Homo sapiens: one gene and its partners. The protein of the gene in region 3 interacts with the protein of the main gene of each other region in a biochemical or structural test. Each region holds a gene or a part of one and is shown on either strand. Other genes may lie near its edges.

Region 1 (7,025 bases), on a different chromosome or scaffold from region 3:
GGCAGATTTTCACAGGCACAGCAATTGAAAATGATTCTGTTTAGAAGGCAGACATTCTCCCACACCCTTGAGGCCCAGGGCTCACTGCTGGTGTACAGCATGAAGTGGACAGGAGAGTTGATTCAGTCCATGAACATTTCAGGAAGTTAGAAGTCTATAGTTGTGGATTGCAAAATACATATCTGGCCTGCCTCCCATTTCCTGGCTAAAATACTTGGAATCTCCGAAGTGATGATGTCTTTTTGTACCCTAATGAGTTGACCAGTGATGGGCAGCCCCTACGAAACTTCAGGGTAGGGCTAGTCACAGGGCCAAGGCAGGATTAGAGGGTTTCAGCCCCACCCTCCAATTTTCCCAGAGTGGAGAGGGACTGAAGATTGAGCTGGTCACCAATAGCCAATAATTTAATCAATCACACCTATACCATGAAGTCACACTTTTGCCTTCAGTAGTTAACAGCATCTACAGCCCCGTGTTTCCACATTTGTACAAAGGAATGTTCAGACTGAACCACACTTAAGTACAATTTTGAAACAGCATGAGGCTGGGCGTAGTGCCTCACGCCTGTAATCCCAGCACTTTGGGAGGCTGAGGCGGGTGGATCATGAGGTCAGGAGATTGAGACCATCCTGGCGAACATGGTGATACCCCGACTCTACTAAAAATACAAAAAAATAGGCCAGGTGTGGTGGTGTGCACCTGTAGTCCCAGCTACCCGGGAGGCTGGGGCAGGAGAATGGCGTGAACCCGGGAGGTGGAGCTTGCAGGGAGCAGAGATCGCGCCACTGCACTCCAGCCTGGGCAACAGAGCGAGACTTTGTCTCAAAAAAAAAAAAAAGAAAAAAAAGAAACAGCATGAAATTCCTTGTTGATGGGAAATACCCGAAAGGCCTGCCTGGGTTTTCAGAGAGCTTCCAGAAAGCTGAATTCATGGAGGTTCCTGGAGAATGGCACAGCCAGGAGGGAAAGGTAGCGCCGTGTCTCTTCCCTCATACACCGCCCACTGCATCTCTCCATCTGTATCCTTTGTAACATCCTTTATGAAAAACCAGTAACCTTTAGTGTTTTTCTGAGTTCTGTGAGCCACTCTAGCAAATTAATTGAACCCAAGGGGAAGGAGTTATGGGAACCCTGATTTATAGATGGCTGTCCAGAAGCACAGGTAAAATAACCTGGAGTTTGTGATTGCCTCCAGGTAGACAGTGTCAGAATTGAACTGAATTAAACGACACCTAGCTGGTGTCTGCTGCAGAACGCAGAACTGGTTGCTTGCTTGGCATGTAGGGAGAAACCCCTGCTCATGTGGTGTGAGAAGCGACCTGTGTTATAAGAGTGTGTGAGAAACTGAGTTTGGGTTTTCCTATGTCCTCAAAATAGTATATTTTGAAAGCCTTCTAGGCAGAATGTATTAAAATAGTTTTTACTCCCTGAAGGGATGCCAGCAAGCTAGAAAGATTCATTTCCAAAGGGCTTCCAGTGGTAGCATGGCTAGACATGAGACATCTTTCCATTTGTGTCATACAGCAAGTTATTTTTGCAGTACCATATACGCTATGCGGGAAACTTTTAAGTATTTTATAGGTTTGATTTAGGTACAAATGGCCAAGAAGCTATCATCTATACTCATCCTGGGGATTGGGAACGGAGGCAGTTAGATGTGCCTGTGCTTTGTACCTTCTGTAGATGGGAATGCAGTTGCTCACTCACCAATCAAATTTATTGATTTATATTTAAAATACTATGAATACATCTTCTGGCAATTTTGGTGGTGACATTTTCCTTAAAATATTTGTACTAGCCAGGCACTGTGGCTCACACCTGTGTAGTGCAATCTACTTGGGAGGCTGAGGCAGGAGAGTGGATCACTTGAACCTAGGAGGTCAAGGTTGCAGTGAGCTGTGATCATAACCACTGCACTCCAGCTTGAGTAACAGAGCAGGACCCTTAGCTCTTAAAAAAATTTATACCTACTCATCAGCTGAGGACCTGGGGGCAGGTTTAGAAAACAGATTTTGAACACACATCCTTCCCTCCCTCTTGTGTCTGACATCACTGAGCTGCCACACTTTTGCCTTCAGTAGTTAACAGCATCTACAACCCCATTTTCCCACATTTTTATGGTCAAAAGAATGTTCAGACTGACCCACACATGAGTACAGTTTTTAAAAAGCATGCAATTCCTTGTTGATGCGATAGGTTTTTCGTGACGAACTTAATTTTTAGGGAAAGCACATCTGCAGATGTGTACAGTTGATCTTCATGAGCCCTATGGGCCTGATAAACATTCTTTTGCCATTGTTTTCTCCTCTCCTTGGTGGTGAGTCACTTGTGCAGTGCCCAGCGGAAGAGGGTGGGAGGCTGGGGAGGAAGGCCTGTTCTGGGCAAAGGAAGCCCTGCTTGATGAGCATGAGGCTCCACGGGGGCAGTGGCTGTGACGGTGAGTGCCACACAGAGCTGCCCACACTGGTGGAGGGAAGGCAGGGAGATACCAGGACCATCCGGAAGGGGCTGAGTGTCATTTGACAGGTGCCATGTGAGCAGAGATGTGAAGGAGTGGCCCGGGACAATCAGGGCAGAATCCCTGAGGTGAGTGCGCTGGCTGGCAGAGTTTGGAGACCTGTCAGGAGTAGGGTGCATACTGGGTGGGAAGCCTGCTGGGGTGTGCAGTGGCCCTCGGAGGGGGTCCGCGGTTCCCAGAAAAAGGAATTTGGTAATCTGTGGTGGCATTTTTGGGTGGCAGCACTGGCACCTTTGGCAGTGGCAAGAACACTTCCTGTCTGACCTTCATGTAGGGGAGGTCGTCTGATGTCCCAGACCTGTTATAAATATGAAAAAAAAATTTTTGTGCATAGTTTTAACAGGTGTTCTGAAGTTCCAGGAACAAAATCACCTTATAAATCAAAGATGACTGTGTATTGTTCTCTTCAGAATCACAGCAAGAATTCAGTTTCCAGAAGGAAAAGCTACAGTAGTTGCTTCATGGACATGGCTTGCCCTTGAGGTTGGTGGTGTCAGTGCATGAGCAGCCTGGTAAGGGTGGTTCTCTGGCCGCCACCCTTGGTCCTCTAGCGTGGTTGTGAAGTCACTTTCCTTTACTCCCCATTGCATCATAGTTGGGACAGAGCAGTGGTTCTCTGCCGTCTTGTGCGAGTGCTGGGATGCTGTCTCTACTTCCTTTTGGGTTGCCAGAGGCAGCATTTAGAGCACAGTGTGGGCATTATGTTGTGGACCAAGGCAGCCTATTGCAAGGACCTGATCGGGCGGCAGCCGTGGGGCAGCTCTGAGTAGAACATCGGGTCACCTGGCTGACTGGTGTGCTGAGAACACGCAGGAGGAGGCTGGAGACGGGGTTCTTGCCTGGGGAACAGGAGGGAGGCTACTCGCATCACAGCGGAGAATGCCTGTTGGGTTTGGGAGGGGGGTTTCGGCTGCAAAGCTGGCTGTCAAGGGGCAGGAATTGGGAGGAGGGTCTAAAGTCTTGAAGAGAAATGTGGGGTCGTTGTGTAGGGGCCACCATCACCTGGAGAGCAGGGCAGATGCCAGCGTGTGTGTGAGAACTAGGTCACTTGAAGGGAGGTCCCCAGAGTGTCCCCGGGGTGTGCCTTTCTCTCACCTAGGTCTGGAGTGCCTCCAGAAGCGAGGATTTCCTGCAAGGGCGGTGGCCTCCCAGGGTCTGTGGGGGGGCATCCCCGTCTCTTTACATGTCTGACTGACCAGAGTGGGGTGGGGTGGCAAGGTGGTGCTCGTCCCAAAGCTGGGGGAAACCTGGTGATGGTTCCCACTCCCATTGTTGCACTTCGCTTTTGATTTCTCTGGAAGAGCAAGTCTTTGTGTGGTGTTTCCCCTCAGCCTACATTTTTAAAATGAACGTTTCTTGAAGGCAGAAATCAAGTTTTAGGCATTGGCTCAATCACTGGTGCAGCCATTGCATTAATTTTCTTTAACCTGGTGCGGAGAAGCTACAAGGGCCCCACCCCCTTCTAGTGGTTGGAGGAAGGAGCAACTTGCTCTCCCAGTTTATGACAGCAACACCAGCAGTGTGCTGTTCCAGTTCCCCTTTTTTTTTTCAAGTGGTGTAGAAAGGGGCCTTCAGGGCCCTGGATCCCCCAGCCCCACACAATGGTGGGCCTATGTTCGTCCAGAACAGTGCCTGGCAGTAGCTCAGTGCCCAGCATGTCTGTGGTGAGTGTGTAGTTCAGGAAGTGAACTGGCAAAACTGAGTATCACCCTCTCTTCCTGGGTTCTTGCCACTCCCCTGAAAACCAGGGTAGCATTGTCACATCAGATAGCTCCGCTACGTGTGCGCTGACCATGCTGAGATGGGCACTGTGGACTCAGCCTCTGGTCATTGCTGGAACCAGCGGCCTCCATGTGAGGTACAGGGGAACGCACTGCTAGCAGATGGTTGGGATGTGGACACTCGTCCTGCCCTCTTGGCTTGGTGCTGTGCCATCGCACAGTCATTCGCTGTTTAGCATGCATGGGAGAGAGTGAAGCACAAGGGCCCAGGCCCCTGGGAGTGCCTGCCCTCAAGTTGGAAGAGCCCTTGGGCACAGCATAGGCGCCTGGCAGAATTGGACTGGGCCATGATCCAGGGCATTGGGACCTCACCTAGGAGTTGGGGTTCTGGTCAGAAGCCCTGTGGAGACAGGGTCTCCCCTGTGGGCACCAAACTGACCTCAAACTGCTGGTTCTTTGGCCCTGGGGACGGGGCTGGTTGAAGTACTCTCCCGGCAGCTGTCACCTGCAGGGAGAGGTGGGGGTAGGGGTGCTGTGTTTCTTAGCTGTTCCTCGTTGCAGTGTTAAATCCCTGCAGGTTCCTTATTCTCAGCTTGTGTTGTGAGTTTCAGTGTTGGGGGCTAATGTGGGTTTGCGTTTTTGGTCTTGGTTTTCCCAGTGGCCAGTCCATCAGCCACTGCACTGGGGGCCAGGTAGAGGCCAACTGCACCCTGCCTGCCAGAGTAGAAATACTGGTAGGCCCCAGGCTCTGCTGCCCCTTCCATGTCCTTGTGTAAGCATCCATGGACAAAGCTGACTCACGGGGTGTGCACAGCTGCAGGGAGGCCAGGAAACAGGGGTTTTATTCTAGAGGGCCTTGTGCTCAGTGACAGACCAGAGTCCCATCACTGAGAGAGCAGGGCTGGGGCAGCACAAAGGACTGGAGAGCATTTGCCATGATGCCATGTGCACAGCCAGTGCAAGTCCTTCATTGTAGCTGTGGTCAGAGGTCATGAGACACTGCCTTCAGCAGCCCTGGGAGTCCACCTGGTGTGTGGTTAGAGCTGTGCATCTGCAGATTTCAGAAGGACTTACGTTTGGTGAGGTGCTTTGAAGTAACACTTCACAAATACCAAGAAGCAAGAAATACACAAATAAGCAGGTAATGGTTCTTTGGTGTTTACATTAGCTAGTGGGCAACGGTTCTTTGGTGTTCACATTAGCTATAGTCCCAGAACTCAGTCCATGAGGTGGAATCACAAAAATGGAATTCATTTCTGGCTGTCAGTACACAAACTGATTTAAGATATCACCTTGAATTTTAAGCTGACAAACAGTGATCTAAACTGAATTTCACTGATTGCCCCACCTGAAAGTCAGACCTGATAGATAATGCCCTCCCTTAACTCAAGGCCAGCAGCAGATGTGTTAGAGGGGACCCTTGTGCCTCGCAGCCCTCATCTCCTAATGGCTGTGGGGTCACTGTGTCGAGTTGTAATGCCTAATGAGCTCCTCTAAAAACATCCTGAAACTTGTGTAAAAAAAACAGCAGACTCCCAGTGGAACTCGCCTTCAGATGCAGCCCAGAATAAGAGTTCTAGAATGTGTGTGCCATCCTTTTGTCTCAATCTGCATGATTGCAAGTCTCTTCAACATGATTGGGTGCGTGGAGTGTCTCGGTCATGTGTCTTCCCCTCTGAGCATGCCTTTTGATTCGCACCTGTGTCACAATTGTGCCAGCCTGTGAGATGTGTCTGCCTGTCACCAGTATCGGCACATTTAGTTTTCCCTTTACGTGAGTTTTGGTAAAATAGTGACAAAATGTAATGCAGTGCTCAGTCACAGAAAAATGTCAGGCCTACAGAAATGGAGCATTTGGCTGGCGGGTAGCGTGATGACCATAGGCTTTATTTGGCTGGTGTGGTAAACAAGCAGCAGCTTGTGCAGGTGAGAATAAATGGCCATATTGCATTTCATTTTAAGGACTCCCTTAAAATGAAAATCTTCGTGTGGGACATGAACACAGGCTTTCACGAAATTGATCATCTACACTATATGTATGACTGTTGAAAGGCTGTTGTTCCTCAGAAATTCTTAAAATGTTATGTAATGTACATGAGTCCCTTCAGGAAGTCATCAGCTTTGTTCAGTTTCCTCAGATTAGATAGTAAAACTGAGATTATGAACTATAAAGATGTGTGTAATTTATCTGTCAGTGAACTTGACTTTAATAAAAGCTTTTTGAAAAAGAACTCTGGGTGGGGTGCATTGGCTCACACACATAGTCCCAACTACTGTGGAGGTCAGGGCAGGAGGATCACTGGAGCCCAAGAGTTCAAGATCAGCCTGGGCAGGATAGCGAGACCCTGTCTATAGAAAATATTAAAAATCAGCTAGGCATGGTGGCTTGCCCTTGCATTCCCTGCCACTTGGGAGGCTGAGGTGGGAGGTTCGCTTGAGCCCAGGAGCTCAAGGCTGCAATGGGCTGTGATCGAACCACTGAATTCCAACCTGGGTGACAGAGTGAGGCCCTGTCTCAAAAAGAGAACTCTCGATGTCACTGGCTTTCCATGTAAGCAGAGCACATCATGTGAGCCCCATTCGTGGATGTCAGTCAGCAGAACAGAATCTTGGACCTGGAGCTTGTTTGTCCTGTGCTAGAGGTTGGAGGTGTCTCTGTCTTTCTGTTGGTTCCTGTCAGTTCAGGTCACTTAGAGATTCTGTTACATACACCAGCTCTGACAGGTTGGGGGAGATGATCAACCTTCCGCCTGCGCCTGTTCCCTTCCCTGACTCATGCCAAAGTA
Region 2 (7,025 bases), on a different chromosome or scaffold from region 3:
TCCCAGGATATCTCCAGGCCTCAGTTTTTTCAGCTGTGTAATGGGCACAATAGTAATGTGAGAATCACCTGAACTGTAAGGCACAAGAGATTAAAAAATGTCACTCTTCAGTCTGGGCACGGTGGCTCACACCTGTAATCCCAGCATTTTGGGAAGCCGAGGCAGGTGGATCACTTGGTCAGGAATTTGAGACCAGCCTGGCCAACATGGTGAAACCCTGTCTGTACCAAAACTACAAAAATTAGCTGGGTGTGGTGGCGCGCACCTGTAATCTCAGCTGCTCAGGAGGCTGAGGCACGAGAATCACTTGAGACCAGGAGGCAGAGGTTGCAGTGAGCCAAGATCGTGCCATTGCACTCCAGCCTGGGCGATAGAGTGAGACCCTGCCACATTAAAAAAAAAAAAAAGTCACTATTCATTTGGCATTCTCAACATGAGTCCAGCACAGGAGCTGGCACGCCACATCATTGGAACCTCAGAACCACCTGGGGAGAAGAGGCTAGTAGTTTCCCCATTAAAAAAACTGAGGCTCAGGGAAATTGCACCAGGACATAAAGTGGTGGTACTTTGTTGCACCCTAGGACTCCTAAACCTGCAAGGCAACCTCCCACAGACAGGAGGGTCAGGAACAGGTTTTTGCTGTGTTATTGGCTTCCTCACCAGGCTGGAAATGTGCTCAGGGCAGGGACACAGTGTTCCAGCCCCTACCATGGAGTGGACAAATAGTGGTGCCCAGGAAAAGTTGGGCCCAACACCACATTTCAAGGAAGGGAAAGCCACATCCAGAGAGACCCGAGGTTTTAGGTCCAGGAGAGACTGAACTGGGCCCGTCAGCCATGCTGGGACTGGTAGACGGGGAGAGCCTGTTTGGCGGTGCCTCCCGGCTCAGCTGTTTCCTCCTGTTCCTACAGGTCTGCAGGGAACTGGCCAGGCAAGGGGGCAGGCCCGTTTCTCCTGGTGGTTGGTGCGTTGTAGCAGCAGCGGGAGCCAGGACTAAGGACAAGCAGGAGCTGGGAGCCCCAGGTAGGACTGAGTTCTCTTAGGCAGATGGATGGTGCACCGGTGTAGCCTTCCTCTCTGGCCTCTTTGTCCTTTGCTGTGGAACTGGATGGGGTTGGGCATGCATGCAGAGTCCTTGATCTGGTTGTGGGCCCTGTGTGCCCAGGGGCCGCAGCTGTTTGCCCTGTCTATGAGGGGCTCTCTGCTCATGAGGAACTTCCTGCCTAACCTGGCTGTGGCCCCAGAATGCTCTCACCTTGGAGCTCAGAGGCCTGGGGCCTACCATTAATTTGGGGCAAAAAGTAGTAACGCTTTTTTGGTCAGTTAGAGAGGGTGGCTCATGGGCCAAAGATTGAGGGTGGGTGTGTCAGCTTTTCCATGGCCCTGTATCTGCCTCAAACTCACCTCATCATCACACAAGGACACTGAAATTCCCCGTGGGCCCCACAGTGGGTTGGACACTGCAGGGGGATGGAATGGGGTCTCCAGCTCCAGGTACAGCTGAGCTGTCTTCCACACCCCAGGCCCCTCCATTTTCCCCAGCTTCTCTGGAGCCCGAGCAGGGCTCAGTCCCTCTCTTCAGCTTCCAGATTCAAGGGGAGCTAGGCAGAGTCTGGAACAATGCTGGGAAGGCTGCAGTCTCTTTGAATCCCCTCAGAAAGCTAGAAATTCCTTGTTTTGGGGCGAGCCTTGCCTCCTTCAGCCCTATTACCATGAAAACATTGCTGTGGGTGACTCCATACTCATTCCAGGCTGGTGACTGGGTGACCGGGCCCCAGTGAACAGGGTACTGGTGGTGGGTATGGGTGCTAATGAAGCTGGAGCCTCGGAGTAACAGTGGGGGGATAGCAAAGACCGTCTTTCCTCCAGGAGTGCTCCCTGAGCAGACCCTCACAGCCAACCCTACTGGCTGTTACGCACCTATAGGTCTGTGAGTAGAGCCATAAAGGCTGGGCTTCCTGGGCCTGACTCTGGGTTGGGGGCAGAAGGGAGGTCAGGGCCTTCACTCTGGGGTAGGAGTTGGGACAGAACAGGAGCAGTCTTCACTGGGCCTTCTGTGTATTGGACCTGTCCCTAAACCTGGTGTGGAGGAAGTAAAGCGCCTTTGGCTGTCTAGGGGCCTCTGCCACCTAAGTTCTGAAGAGCCAGCCCTTTCCGTCACTCAGCCTTGTTTTGTAAGGAGTTTGATTAGTCTTGGAGACAGCCCACTGTAAACCCTCAGACATCACCCTCCAGCTGCACAGACATATGCGTGCTCACACAGGGATATGGCAAGCTAGGCTGCAGTGGGCATGCACACCCACAGACTCATGAGTTCCTGTACGTGCACCACACATGTGGGCATGCAGGTACACAGGTGCTCACATGCAGCCACCCATGGCACACTCACACACACACAGATGCTCTCCCAGTTACCGTTGGCATCCATGCACTCAAATGCCTGCCCACACATACCGCACTGTGCCCATTCTGGGGTCAGGAAGGGGTCCCTGGTCAGAGTTACAGCCCAGTCAGGTCGCCTGCATCTGGCACCTGAGGGGCAAGTTCCAGGTGTGGCTGTGATCTCAGTAAGGGGGGCTGGGCCACCCTGGTAGGTGGGCTCTGCCCATGCATTCAGCAGCCACCCTGCCCACCTGGCCCCAGGCTCCAGGCCGACCAGGGATTGGCATGGGAGATGGGAGGCATGAATGCGGGGGAGAGGCTGTGTCAGCTGTGCCAGCACTGTGTGCCTGCTGCTACAGCAGAGGAAGTAGGCTGTCTGGCCATGGGGCCAAGGTGCTCACAGTGGGTGGGGGTCCTATCAACTCCTGTGTCCCCCACGGTGTCCATGCCTAGAGGGAGTGGAGTTGCTGGGCTCTAGGGACTGAGAGGTTGGCAGGGGCTGTCTGTTCACTTCCCAAAGCCTGGGCCTAGGAGAGAGGCCCATCTGTTCAAGGCGTTTCCGGAGGCTTACTTCCTCTGAGCTGCCCAGGAAGTGGTTTTGGAGTGGGACTGACCAGCCCTCTGTCAGTGGCTCTACGCCTTGCTCCGCCCCTGCCTTGCCTGCCCAGGGGAGCAGCGTCTGGCCACCGGGTTAGGCTGACTGACCAGGCTTTTCACTGCCAGGGCTGCCCAGGCCTTTTTGGGGGGCTCTAGGAGAAGGGCAGGGGGCAGGTCACGAAGTCCCCTGCAGTCCCCACAACCGTGGCTCCTTTCTTGCTCTGAGCCTGTAAGCCGAGGCTCAAGAGCATCAACTCTGGTAGGCATGGCCCCCTTGAGAGAGGTGATGGCTGGGCTGCATCTTAGTGACTAGGCAGCTCCCAGCAGCTCTATGAATGAACCTGGGCAAGTGGCTCTGCCGCTCAGTGCCTCAGTCTCCCCCTGACAGATGAGATAATGATAGCATCCATCTTGATGAGGTTGTGCGGAAATGACAGATAACATATGCAAAGTAGCTGGCATCGTGCTTAGTGCATTGTCAGAGTTGAATGAGTAGAAACTGTAGTTATGTAAAGCATTTAGAGCCCAGTTCATGGGAACTATTCAAAAAATAGCAAGTGGGACTGATGAGGGGGTATTATTATCTGATGGGCTGGGCACTGGCCCAGTGTTACATGGCCAGGTGGCTGTGGAGCCTGGCTGAGGAGCCAGGTCTCTGACTCCCTCATCCCCCTCAATTCTACCTCCAGTGGCAGTGCCCTACTTGTTCAGTAGGTTCCATGCCCTCCGAGGAGAGGAGCTCCTGTTGGAGCAGCTCCACCCACTCAGCAGTCCAGCCCCTGCCTGCTCTTCTCCCCCTCACTCCCTTTCAAAGGGAGAAAATAGATCTCGTGACAAATGGATGCAGGGAGGGGAAAGGCAGTCTGCAGCTGCCTGCTGCCCCCTCAGGGCTCCCCTTGGCCCTCTCCAGCTCTGGCCTCCTGCAGGACATTAGGCTGGGAGAATTGGCTGGGAACGAGGGGGTGGACGTAAGCCCTCCTGCCAGCCTGCTTACCCTTCAGACCCCTGGAGTCAGCCTGTGGGCTGGGGCAGGGAGTGGGCATCTGGGACTGATGGAAGCTAGAAGAGTAGGGGGAGCTAGAAAACCCCCTACACCCATGGCAGCTGGGGGCAGGGCCCAGCCTGTCCCAGGGACACGAAGAAGGTCAGCACAGTTAGGGTTGGGCTAAGCATTGGCCTTCACTGTGTGGGGCCCAGAGGCTGGGGATGAGGAGTGTTGAGGAGTGGTAAGGACAGTGATGCAAACAGCAGGGGCCTGAGGGCTGGAGAGCGAAAGGTGGATGGGCCTGGGCGGGAAGTGTGGTTGAGGGTATCCTGAAGGCTTAGGAGCAGGACTTCTGCAGGCATCAGACAGACCCTGGTTGAATCCTTGCTCAATATTTACTGGCTGTGCACACTTGAGCCAGGGACTGGACCGTTCCCCACTTGCCTCGTCTGTGAAATGGGCAGATCACGGGGTGTGGTGTCCTGTGAGACATGAACGATGGGAAGGAGCCACTGTGTGGGGTGGGGTGGAGCAGGAAGACGGAACAGCAAGCCCAGAGGCTCCTAAGCGGGAAGGAACTGGCTGCTTCGGGAACTGAAAGGGGTCAGCGTGGCTGGGGCACAGGAATGAGGGAAAGGCAGCGCCTGCCCGAGAGGTCAGGGAGGTAACGGTGATGGGGAGGGGGGTGGCGGGGGGCAGGCTGCATGGAGCAGGCTGAGGGGAGGAGTCTGGGCTTGTCAGAGGGGCAATGGGAGGCACTGGGGGCTTGGGCAGGGGGTGACAAAATCTGTCTGAAAAGCCCCGTCTGGTGGCTGGAACAGGGGGACTGTCGGGCCGGGGTAGAGGATGGAGAGCAGTCAGAAGACAGGTGCAGAGCCTGGGGATGGTGGTGGTGGGAGAAGAGGATTTGAGACTTGAGGACAGGCTGCAGCGGCAGACGGGATGGCCTTATTGTGTGGGGAGCAGGGGGAGCTGTCTGGCCTGAGCCACTGCCTGAGCTCGTGCACTCCTAGTGGATGAGGAGCGCTGGGAGGGGAACGGCGGGGGACTGGTGTGGGCAGGCTTGAGCTCTTCTGGAGTCATTCATGTGGTGAAGCCAGGGAGGCAGGTGGGGCCACAAGCCTGAAGTTCAGGAGGGTCTGGGCCCAAAGTAGAGACGGGAGCCTAAAGCCAGGATTGGGGAGGAGAGGGCTCAACAGGCCTTCTAAGGGGTGGGGGAGCATTTGAGAGGCCCACGAACAGGACTGGGATGGCTGTCCCTCAAAGGTCTCTGCCAAGGCACCCAGGAGGGCAGGCTTGTGGTGGCTGAGCCGCTGTTTTCACAACAGCTCCGGAAGCTTTGGATCATGTCTATGGCCGTGTTGGGTAAACAGGCAGAGCAGAGCAGGCAGTCGCCAAGGCCTGAGGCTAGATCAGATGTCTGCGTGGTGTAGGTTGTGGGCTGGGGTTGTTGGGGTGGGAGGAGGATCCCAGGGTCCTCCAGTGTCAGGGCTGGAGAAAGCTTAGAGGTCTCCATTGTTGAGACAGGGAGGCTGGAGCCCCGGGAGGGGCAGTAGCTGGCCAGCCTCTGCCAGTGGACTCATGCTGCCTGCTTCAGCCCAGTTCTGCCCAGAGCCTCAGGCCAGAACAGGGCACCCTGCGGCTGGGGGGCTTAACAGAGCCTCTTTTCCCACTTTCCAAGGAAGTCTGGAAGACACCAGAGCACTTGGGCCAAGATCGCGGAGCACCCAGGCAGCAGATCTGAGCTAGGCCTGTCTAGGTCCAAGCTCGCCGGTTCCTCTGTCCGCTGCCTGCTGTGGGATGGCGCACCATGCGGGATGGTCCTGCCTCTCTCCCAGCTTTCTCAATATCCCCAAAGTGGGGAAGCATCATGTGGATCCTGCCCAGATCCTGGGGATGACTGGCAAAAGGGTTAGGTGGCCATCTTGCCTTCTCCCAAACACAAAACGATTGTTTCCAATGGTAAACCATCTGGAAAATCGTGGGAACTCTGTGGGAGAAAGAAGGGCTAAGGAGTAGGGCTCTTGTACTGGGGGCTGATGGAGGAGCTGTTCCCATCTCCAAACACATACCCTCACCCCATTGGAGGCCAGATGGGCAGTTCTAGGACTAGAGCTGGAAGTTCTCTCCCCACTTCCCCCTGGGTCTGCCCCATTGGCTTTGTGGCTTTGGTTGAATTGCTCAACCTCTCTTTCGGTTTCTGCACAGTGAGCCTGGAGCTCAAGGAACTTGCTCCTGGGGTGCCCGGCTTGCTGCCCTACCAACATAGGTTCAAGCCCTCCCCTCCCCCTGCGCGCCAGGCCTGTGACTGCCACCTGTGACCTTCAACCTCCACCATAGCCTCAGGGCCCTGCAGGCAGGTGGGCGGGCGGGCGGAGGCCTGCCCAGTGATGTGCCTGACCAGCCCACTCCTTCCCTTACACACTTTAGACTTTGCTCTGGATCAAGAGGGACTTTCTTCGTCTCCCTGGGTGGAAAGGCCCAGCCTAGCCTGACACCAGCTGCCCTTCTGCCCCTCCTCCATTCCCCAGCCATTGTGCCTGGGGGCTGTGGTGGAAAAAGCTGCATTTGGACTTCATGGTGCCAGACTCTAGTCAGGGATGTGGGGTCCTTCCAGGACTGTATGTTTGTTTCTGTGTCTGCCTGGAGCATCTCTGTGCCAGTGTGTACATCACAGCTTGTGGCACTCCACGTGCGTGTGGAGCCTATGTGGTCGGGTGTGGTCTGTGTGGGCCCGGGTATCTGTTGAGATGTGAGAGCCGGTGAGTGCATGTGTGTTTCTGTGTGTGTGTGTGTGTGTGTGTACGTGTGCCCCTGTGTCATCACAGCAGTGTGTGTACGTACCTGTGGCTCCAACTGTGTGCGTGTGTGTCTAATGTCGAGTGGGGCTCCCTATGTGCTGTTTGGGTTGGCGAGTGTGCCTGTGTGCACACGTGTGGTTATTCGTGGAGAGGCCCGGCTGCATCCCCCACCCTGGCTCCTCACAGAGGCCCCTTGTCCTCACAGGATCTGGCTCTCTGGCTCCTGCCATGAAGGGGCCTTTGTTCCTCTCTCAGGGGTA
Region 3 (7,025 bases):
ATGTGGGAGTCTTGTACTTGGCCTTGGTGGTCTGACGTGGAGGGATGGCAGAGTCAGCAGGAGGTGCCAATCTGCCCTGGCTCCCTCCCTACCTCCAGCCCCTATCGGAGGGAATGAACACCTTGGTGAAGTTCCAGCGCTGGATGAAGTGCCGGGCAAGGTCCCGGGCCGGTAGGCCATGGACGACCACCCCAACGTCCCGCCATGGCATCCGAGGGGTCGTCTCCCTGTCAATGAAATCTGGGGGGTCCCAGGAGAGTCAGGGGAGATGTCAGGGCTGGACTCCTTGGGACACTTGGGGCAGGGAGAAAGAGCCTGCCAGAGGGAGGGCTGTACCACCGTTGACCCCTCTCATCCCACTCTCAGTACCAGCCCCAGCTTCTGACCCTGCTCTCAGCTCTCTGGGGCTTTGGCGGGTGGGAGGCTTCACCTTCGAAAGGCCGGTCCAGCTGCACCCAGTCCTTGGTGATAAGATTGCTGTAGTCCTTGCCCAGCCAGAAGAATTGGTTGTGAGAGAGGTCTGGGGTGGCTGGTGAGTCTGGGCGCGGGGTGGGAGGCTGTAGGGGGAACACACCCAAGCCAGGGGCAAGGGGAAGTCATGGGGCTGTACAGAGCCAGGGCCAAAGAGAGGAGCACTGAAAGAGTGAGAGAGACCGAGAGGAAGAATGAAACAGAGGGTCTGATTCCCCAGCCCTCCCCTCCAGTTGCCTTTGACACTTTTAGAGGAATGGGGTGATGGTCAGTGAAAATGGGGAAAGGACTGGGTGGGTGACAGCACTTTTTTTTTTTTTTTTGAGACAGAGTCTCGCTCTGTTGCCCAGGGTGGAGTACAATGGCACAATCTCGGCTCACTGCAACCTCCGCCTCCTGGGTTCAAGTGATTCTCCTGCCTCAGCCTCCCGAGTAGCTTCAATGACAGGCAACTGCCACCATGCCCAGCTAATTTTTTGCATTTTTAGTAGAGACAGGGTTTCACCATGTCGGTCAGGCTGGTCTCGAACTCCAGACCTCAGGTGATCCACCCGCCTTGGCCTCCCAAAGTGCTGGGATTACAGGCATAAGCCATGGCTCCCGGCCAGTTACAGCACTTTCAAAGTGGGTTCTTGGAGTCCCAGAAAGTCTGAGGAACCCTGAGGTTGGCAGGGCCTGGAATGACTGAGGGGGTAAGGCTGGAGCTGGGAAATGGTGTTGATTGAGCTTATCTGAGTTTGGGGGTGCTCAGGAAGGCCTCAGGGGGATTACCTGGGAGGCAGCTGATTCAGAGGAGTCTCCAAGGTCAGTCAGTCGGTAGTGCAGGTCATCCCAGCGGCCATAGGCAAGGTCCAGTCCCCCCAGGAATGCTACCACTTGGTCCACCACCAGGAGCTTCTCATGATGGGCCCACAACGTCACTTGGTCTGGGTGACGCATCACCTGGAGCAGGCATGGAGGGTTCATGAGGGTGGGTTTAGGTGAAGGAAAACAGGAGGTACTGGGAGGGAGAGAGGAAAGATGGAAAGATGAGACCATCAGGGAGCGGGAGCGCTGGGGGCTGGGACAGTGTGGGGAGAAGGGCTGTCATGTGGGAGGGTCTCTGAGGCCGAGAGTCACCTTTATGTTGGGGTGCAGCAGCATCAGCGCCCTCTTGCTATAGCCACTGTTGATGCCCAAGGCCAATTCCACTTCTTTAAACAGCAGAATAGACACACGGACACCCTCCTCCTGGTGGTGAGTTGGGGAATCAGATCCTAGTGCCTCTCCCAGAGTAGCCCCTTTCCACACTCCCAAACCTTTTCCACGTGTGTCCCTCCAGCTTGTCTGGAGATCCTAGAGGCTCTGCCACATATGCCCTGCTTTGCTGCTTGCCACAGACTTAGACTAAATGTCATCTGTGTGCTCACCCACTCACCCATCCACACATCTATCCACCCACCCTTCATCATCCATCCATCCATCTTCCCAAGCATTTACTCATCCCTTTATGTACCGTCTATCATTCATCCATCTACCTGCCTACCCTCCTAGCCCTCCACCTTTCCAACTCATATCCTTCCATCCATCACCCTTTCTGTCCTCTATCCATCCACCTGCCCAGCCACCCTGCATCATCCATGCATCCTTCTTCCTGTCCATCAACACCACACATGCCCCCTCCATGGCAGGTACTGTGCCTTGTAGTGGAACAGTGATATTAACTAGTCCAGTGAGAGAGATAGACATGTATACCCCCAGATAACACAATAAAGTATTATGTATACTGGGAGGGAAGTCTCTGCCAGGTGGAGGGAGCATGAAGAGGAAGTTGTCAGTTCTCCTTAGGGCAGAGGGAGAGGGCGGAGGTGATGTCTGACAGGTGCTGGGCCAGGATGGACACTTTTCCCTCCCCTGAAGCCTCAGACTGCCTAATTCTCCCACACTGCAGCCCTGCTAATCAACCTCCACCCACAGGCAACCCCCTCCCCCTGCGGCCTGACCACTCTCCTCACCGCCTTCCTCTTGAGCATAATGTCCAGTCTCCAGTCATCTGAATGGGCCGGACGCTTCAGGTAAACCTCAGGACTCAACCTGGGATTCAGGGCAGTGGATTAGGGGCAAACGAAGCCCCAGACCACCAGCTGCACCCCCCTTCTCCTCCTAATGCTGATCTGCCCCAGGCTCTATCCTGCCCCATGTTGTTGGGGCCTTTTCCCACTCACCACCAGTCTGTGATGAAAATCTCCTCTTGAGCTCGAAGGATGGCATCTGCCACAGCAGCAAAGTAACCTGCCCCATTCACAAACCTGGGGGGAGGCCAAGCCAAGGAGGTCAGGGGAGTCAGAAGCCAGAAAGCTCTGGAGAGTGAAGACCGGAGGACAGTCGTGGGTCAGAGGTGACAGCAAGGTCAAAGATCAGAAATGATCAGAGAACACAAGTGGTATCAGACACATCAAAATAGTGTTTGCCCATATGCGCTAAATACAAATAAAAATTACAAAAAGACACAATAACCTAATCAACTAAAGAACAGGAGGATTAATACATCATACATAAAGAACACCAATAAATCGACAAGAAAAAGTCACATGAGCCAACTGAAAAATGAGCAAAGAGTAAGAACTGACAGTTCACAGAGAAATTAAAATGGCCAATCGTGGCAAATGTTCAGTTTCACTAGTAAACAACGAAATTAAAATGAAATTACATTTAAAAAATCCATTAGATTGGTAATAATTCAAATCACTGGTAACATTCAATATCAATATTCAATATGCTGGGGAAGTGGGTATTCTCATAGACTATGGGAATATAACTTTTAGGAGACAATTTGGCAGTATCAAAAAATATATATATAGCTTTTTGGAGATGGTGTCCCGCTCTGTCACCCAGGCTGGAGTGCAATGGCATGATCTTGGCTCACTGCAACCTCCGCCTCTTGGGTTCAAGCAATTTTCCTGTCTCAGCCTCCCAAGTAACTGAAATTACAGGCGCCCGCCACCACGCCTGGCTAATTTTTGTATTTTTAGTAGAGACGGGTTTTTGCCATGTTGGCCAGGTTGGTCTTGAACTCCTGACCCCAATGATCTACCCGCCTCGGCCTCCCAAAGTGCTGGGATTACAGGCATGAGCCAAAGCGACTGGTCAGCAGTATCAAAATATTAAATGCATATACCCTTTAATATCATTAAATATACATGGTAATTACATGTCTAGGAATACATCTAATACAATGCCTAGGCAAATGTTGTGTTCATCACATTGTTTGTAAGAGTGAAAAATGGGAAATAATATAAGTGTCTAATCTCTCACACAGGTATTAAGTGAAAAAATAAGTCACAGAAGAGGTTGCATGATCTCATTTATGTTGAAACAAAAGTAACACGTGCATGCACATGTGAAAATATGCAGGAAGGCTGGGCAAGGTGGCTCATGCCTGTAATCCCAGCCCTTTGGGAAGCCGAAGCGGGTGGATCACTTAAGGTCAGGAGTTCGTGACCAGCCTGGCCAACATGGTGAAATCCTATCTCTACTAAAAATACAAAAATCAGCTGAGCATAGTGGTGCACGCCTGTAATCCCAGCTACTCAGGAGGCCGAGGCAGGAGAATCGCTTGAACCCAGGGGGCAGAGACTGCAGTGAGCTGGTATCGCGCCACTGCACTCCAGCTTGGGCGACAGAGCCAGACTCCATCTCAAAAACCAAACCAAACCAAAACAAAACAAACGAACAAACAAAACTTCCTTCCATGACTGCCCTGTGTGCCTGTGATATTAGCACATGGGACCCTGTGAGATCAGGTGCCACTGACTCCCAGCTTCTCCTCTGACTGCTCCTCCTCACTCAGTAACAACAATATGTCCTGGTGGTTCCCAAACACCCTGAGCTATTTCTGTCTTCTGTGCCTGGACTGTTCTGCATTTTCTTTATCTTGTATAGTTCCATGAGGATCAGCAAGTGTATGTTCCCACGCAATCACCAGTCCTATCAAAATATAGGACATTTTTATCGTCCTGGAATGTTCCCTCGTGTGCCCCACTATAGGCAATCATTTCCCCATACCCTGCCACAGGCAACTGCTGATCTGATTTCCATCACTGTGGATTGGTTTTGGCTGTTTTAGAAGTTTATAGCCAGGTGCAGTGGCTCAAGCCTGTAATCCCAGCACTTTGGGAGGCCGAGGTGGGCAGATCACGAAGTCAGGAGATCGAGACCATCCTGGCCAACATGGTGAAACCCTGGCTCTACTAAAAATACAAAAATTAGCTGGACATGGTGGCATATGCCTGTAATCCTAGCTACTCAGGAGGCTGAGGCAGAAGAATCACTTGAACCGGGGAGTCAGAGGTTGCAGTGAGGTGGGATCCTGCCACTGCACTCCAGCCTGGTGACAGAGACAGACTCCATCTCAAAAAAAAAAAAAAAAAACCAAAACAAAAATTAGCTGGGTGTGGTGGCATGCACCTGTGATCCCAGCTACTTGGGAGGCTGAGGCAGGAGAATCCCTTGAACCTGGGAGGCTGAGGTTGCAGTGAGCTGAGATTGTGCCACTGCACGCTAGCCTGGGCAACAAGAGCGAAACTCTGCCTTAAAAAAAAAAAAGTATATAGGCCAGGCACTGTCGCTCATGCCTGCAATCCAGCACTTTGGGGAGGCCGAGGCAGGATGATCCCTTGAGCCCAGGAGTTCGAGACCACACCCGTCTAATTTTTAAAATTTTTTGTAAAAAAAAATGTTTTTAATTAGCCGGGTGTGGTGGCATGTGTCTGTAGTCTCAGCTACTTGGGAGGCTGAGGCAGGAGGATGATTTGAGCCTGGGAGGTTGAAGTTGCCGTGAGCCATGATCACACTACTGCACTACACGCCTGGTGACAGAGCAAGACACTGTCTCCAACAAAAACCAACAAAATTAATATTGTGTCAGTCTCTGATTTAAAGCAAAACTACCTGAGGGTCACCACCTCCTGGAAACCTGTCCTGATATCCCTGCTGGGCCAGGTACTTCCTGTCTGTGCGTGTCACCTTCTACCTATCACCAGTACGGCAAGTTCACATTGTTTCACGATTTGATCACCTACTTCCCTAACCCAGAGAGGACTGTGTGTTACTGCCAGCACTGCTAGGTGCTTAGAAAAATGTTTATTAAGGCTGGGCACGGTGGCTCACGCCTGTAATCCCAGCACTTCGGGAGGCCGAGGCGGGCGGATCACCCGAGGTCAGGAGTTCGAGAAGAGCCTGGCCAACATGGTGAAACCCCCGTCTCTACTAAAAATACAAAAATTAGCCAGGTGTGGTGGTGGGCGCCTGTAATCCCGGCTACTCGGGAGGCTGAGGCAGAAGAATCGCTTGAACCTGGGAGGCGGAGGTTGCAGTGAGCCGAGATCAACAGAACAAAACTCTCTCTCAAAAAAAAAAAAAAAAAAAAAGAAAAGAAAATGTTTATTAAATGAAGGACTAAATCAGAGAGATTTGAGAAGATCATGGAGAACAGAGAGGGTCAGTATTGTAGAGAGGGGTTTAAAAGGTTATAGGAGGTTAGAGAGGTCAAGGGTCAGAAGAGATGACCAAGTTTGGGGGTCAGAAAGGTCGGCGCGAAATCAGAGAGATCAATGTGGTTAAAGATGTCAAAGGTCAGGAAGATTAAAGAAGTCACGGGGCGGGTCATTGAGGTCAGGAGGGTTCAGATGAGAAAAGAGAGGATGAAGGACTCAGAGATTACACAGGGGGTCAAGAAAGCCACAGACAAGCTCAGAAGGGATGTCAGTGTCTCACCACCGGGCCAAGGTCCCAGGCCGGGGTGGGGCGTAGCTGTCATGCCGGTGCAGCTGTAGGAAGTCTCTGCCTGGGCCCTGTGCCAGCTCAGTGATCTCTTGGGCCCACCACCGTGCCTGCCGGTAGCTGCTGCACTTGAGAATCAAGGACCTGGATGGGAACGATGAGATGTCCATAAATCCTCGCCCTCCATACCTGTGATCTTGCCTAGAGACCTCCCCTTTCCCACTTCCTCCCTTAGTCCCTAATCACAACTGCACAGGGATAGGGCGTGTATGTATCTGCCTTATTTATTTATTTATTTTTGAGACAGAGTTTAGCTCTTGTCCCCCAGGCTGGAGTGCAGTGGTGCGATCTCTGCTCACTGCAACCTCTGCACCCCAGCTTCAAGCGATTCTCCTGCCTCAGCCTCCCAAATAGCTGGGATTACAGGCACGCACCACCACGCCCGGCTAATTTTTGTATTTTTAGTAGAGACAAGGTTTTAGCATGTTGGCTGGGCTGGTCTCGAACTCCTGACCTCAGGTGATCCACCCGCCTCGGCCTCCCAAAGTGCTGGGATTGTAGGTGTGAGCCACCGCGCCCGGCCATATCCACCTTACTCATAGTTGGATCCTAGTATTGCATCAGCAACCAGTATTGTACCAGGCACTCGGGTTTGTTGAATGAACAAATGAACAAATGGAATTTCGTTTATGTCAGCAGTTCCCTTCCCAGGCTTCTACTAATCCCCTTTCTCTGGGCCCAGTCTAAGAGCAGTCCCAAGCATCTGGCTAGACCAGTTCCTGGTTCAAAACTAT

What was found.
Region 1: the proteins of PLD2 (region 3) and ARF1 form a complex in vitro, tested with the Homo sapiens proteins (2 studies listed by BioGRID).
Region 2: the proteins of PLD2 (region 3) and PRKCD form a complex in vitro, tested with the Homo sapiens proteins (one study listed by BioGRID).

What each region holds. Positions count from the first base shown.
Region 1 is NC_000001.11:228,085,692-228,092,716, forward strand, and holds part of ARF1 (ADP-ribosylation factor 1), read left to right. Parts: intron 1-7,025. UniProt on the Homo sapiens protein: Small GTPase involved in protein trafficking between different compartments. Modulates vesicle budding and uncoating within the Golgi complex. In its GTP-bound form, triggers the recruitment of coatomer proteins to the Golgi membrane.
Region 2 is NC_000003.12:53,164,193-53,171,217, forward strand, and holds part of PRKCD (protein kinase C delta type), read left to right. Parts: exon of another isoform or gene 1-911; 5' UTR 912-1,023; intron 1,024-4,510; exon of another isoform or gene 4,511-4,590; coding exon of another isoform or gene 4,591-4,628; intron 4,629-7,025.
Region 3 is NC_000017.11:4,810,152-4,817,176, reverse strand, and holds part of PLD2 (phospholipase D2), read right to left. Parts: intron 6,376-7,025; coding exon 6,226-6,375; intron 2,760-6,225; coding exon 2,676-2,759; intron 2,545-2,675; coding exon 2,466-2,544; intron 1,702-2,465; coding exon 1,591-1,701; intron 1,414-1,590; coding exon 1,243-1,413; intron 636-1,242; coding exon of another isoform or gene 597-635; exon of another isoform or gene 558-596; coding exon 431-557; intron 241-430; coding exon 122-240; intron 102-121; coding exon of another isoform or gene 32-101; coding exon 1-31.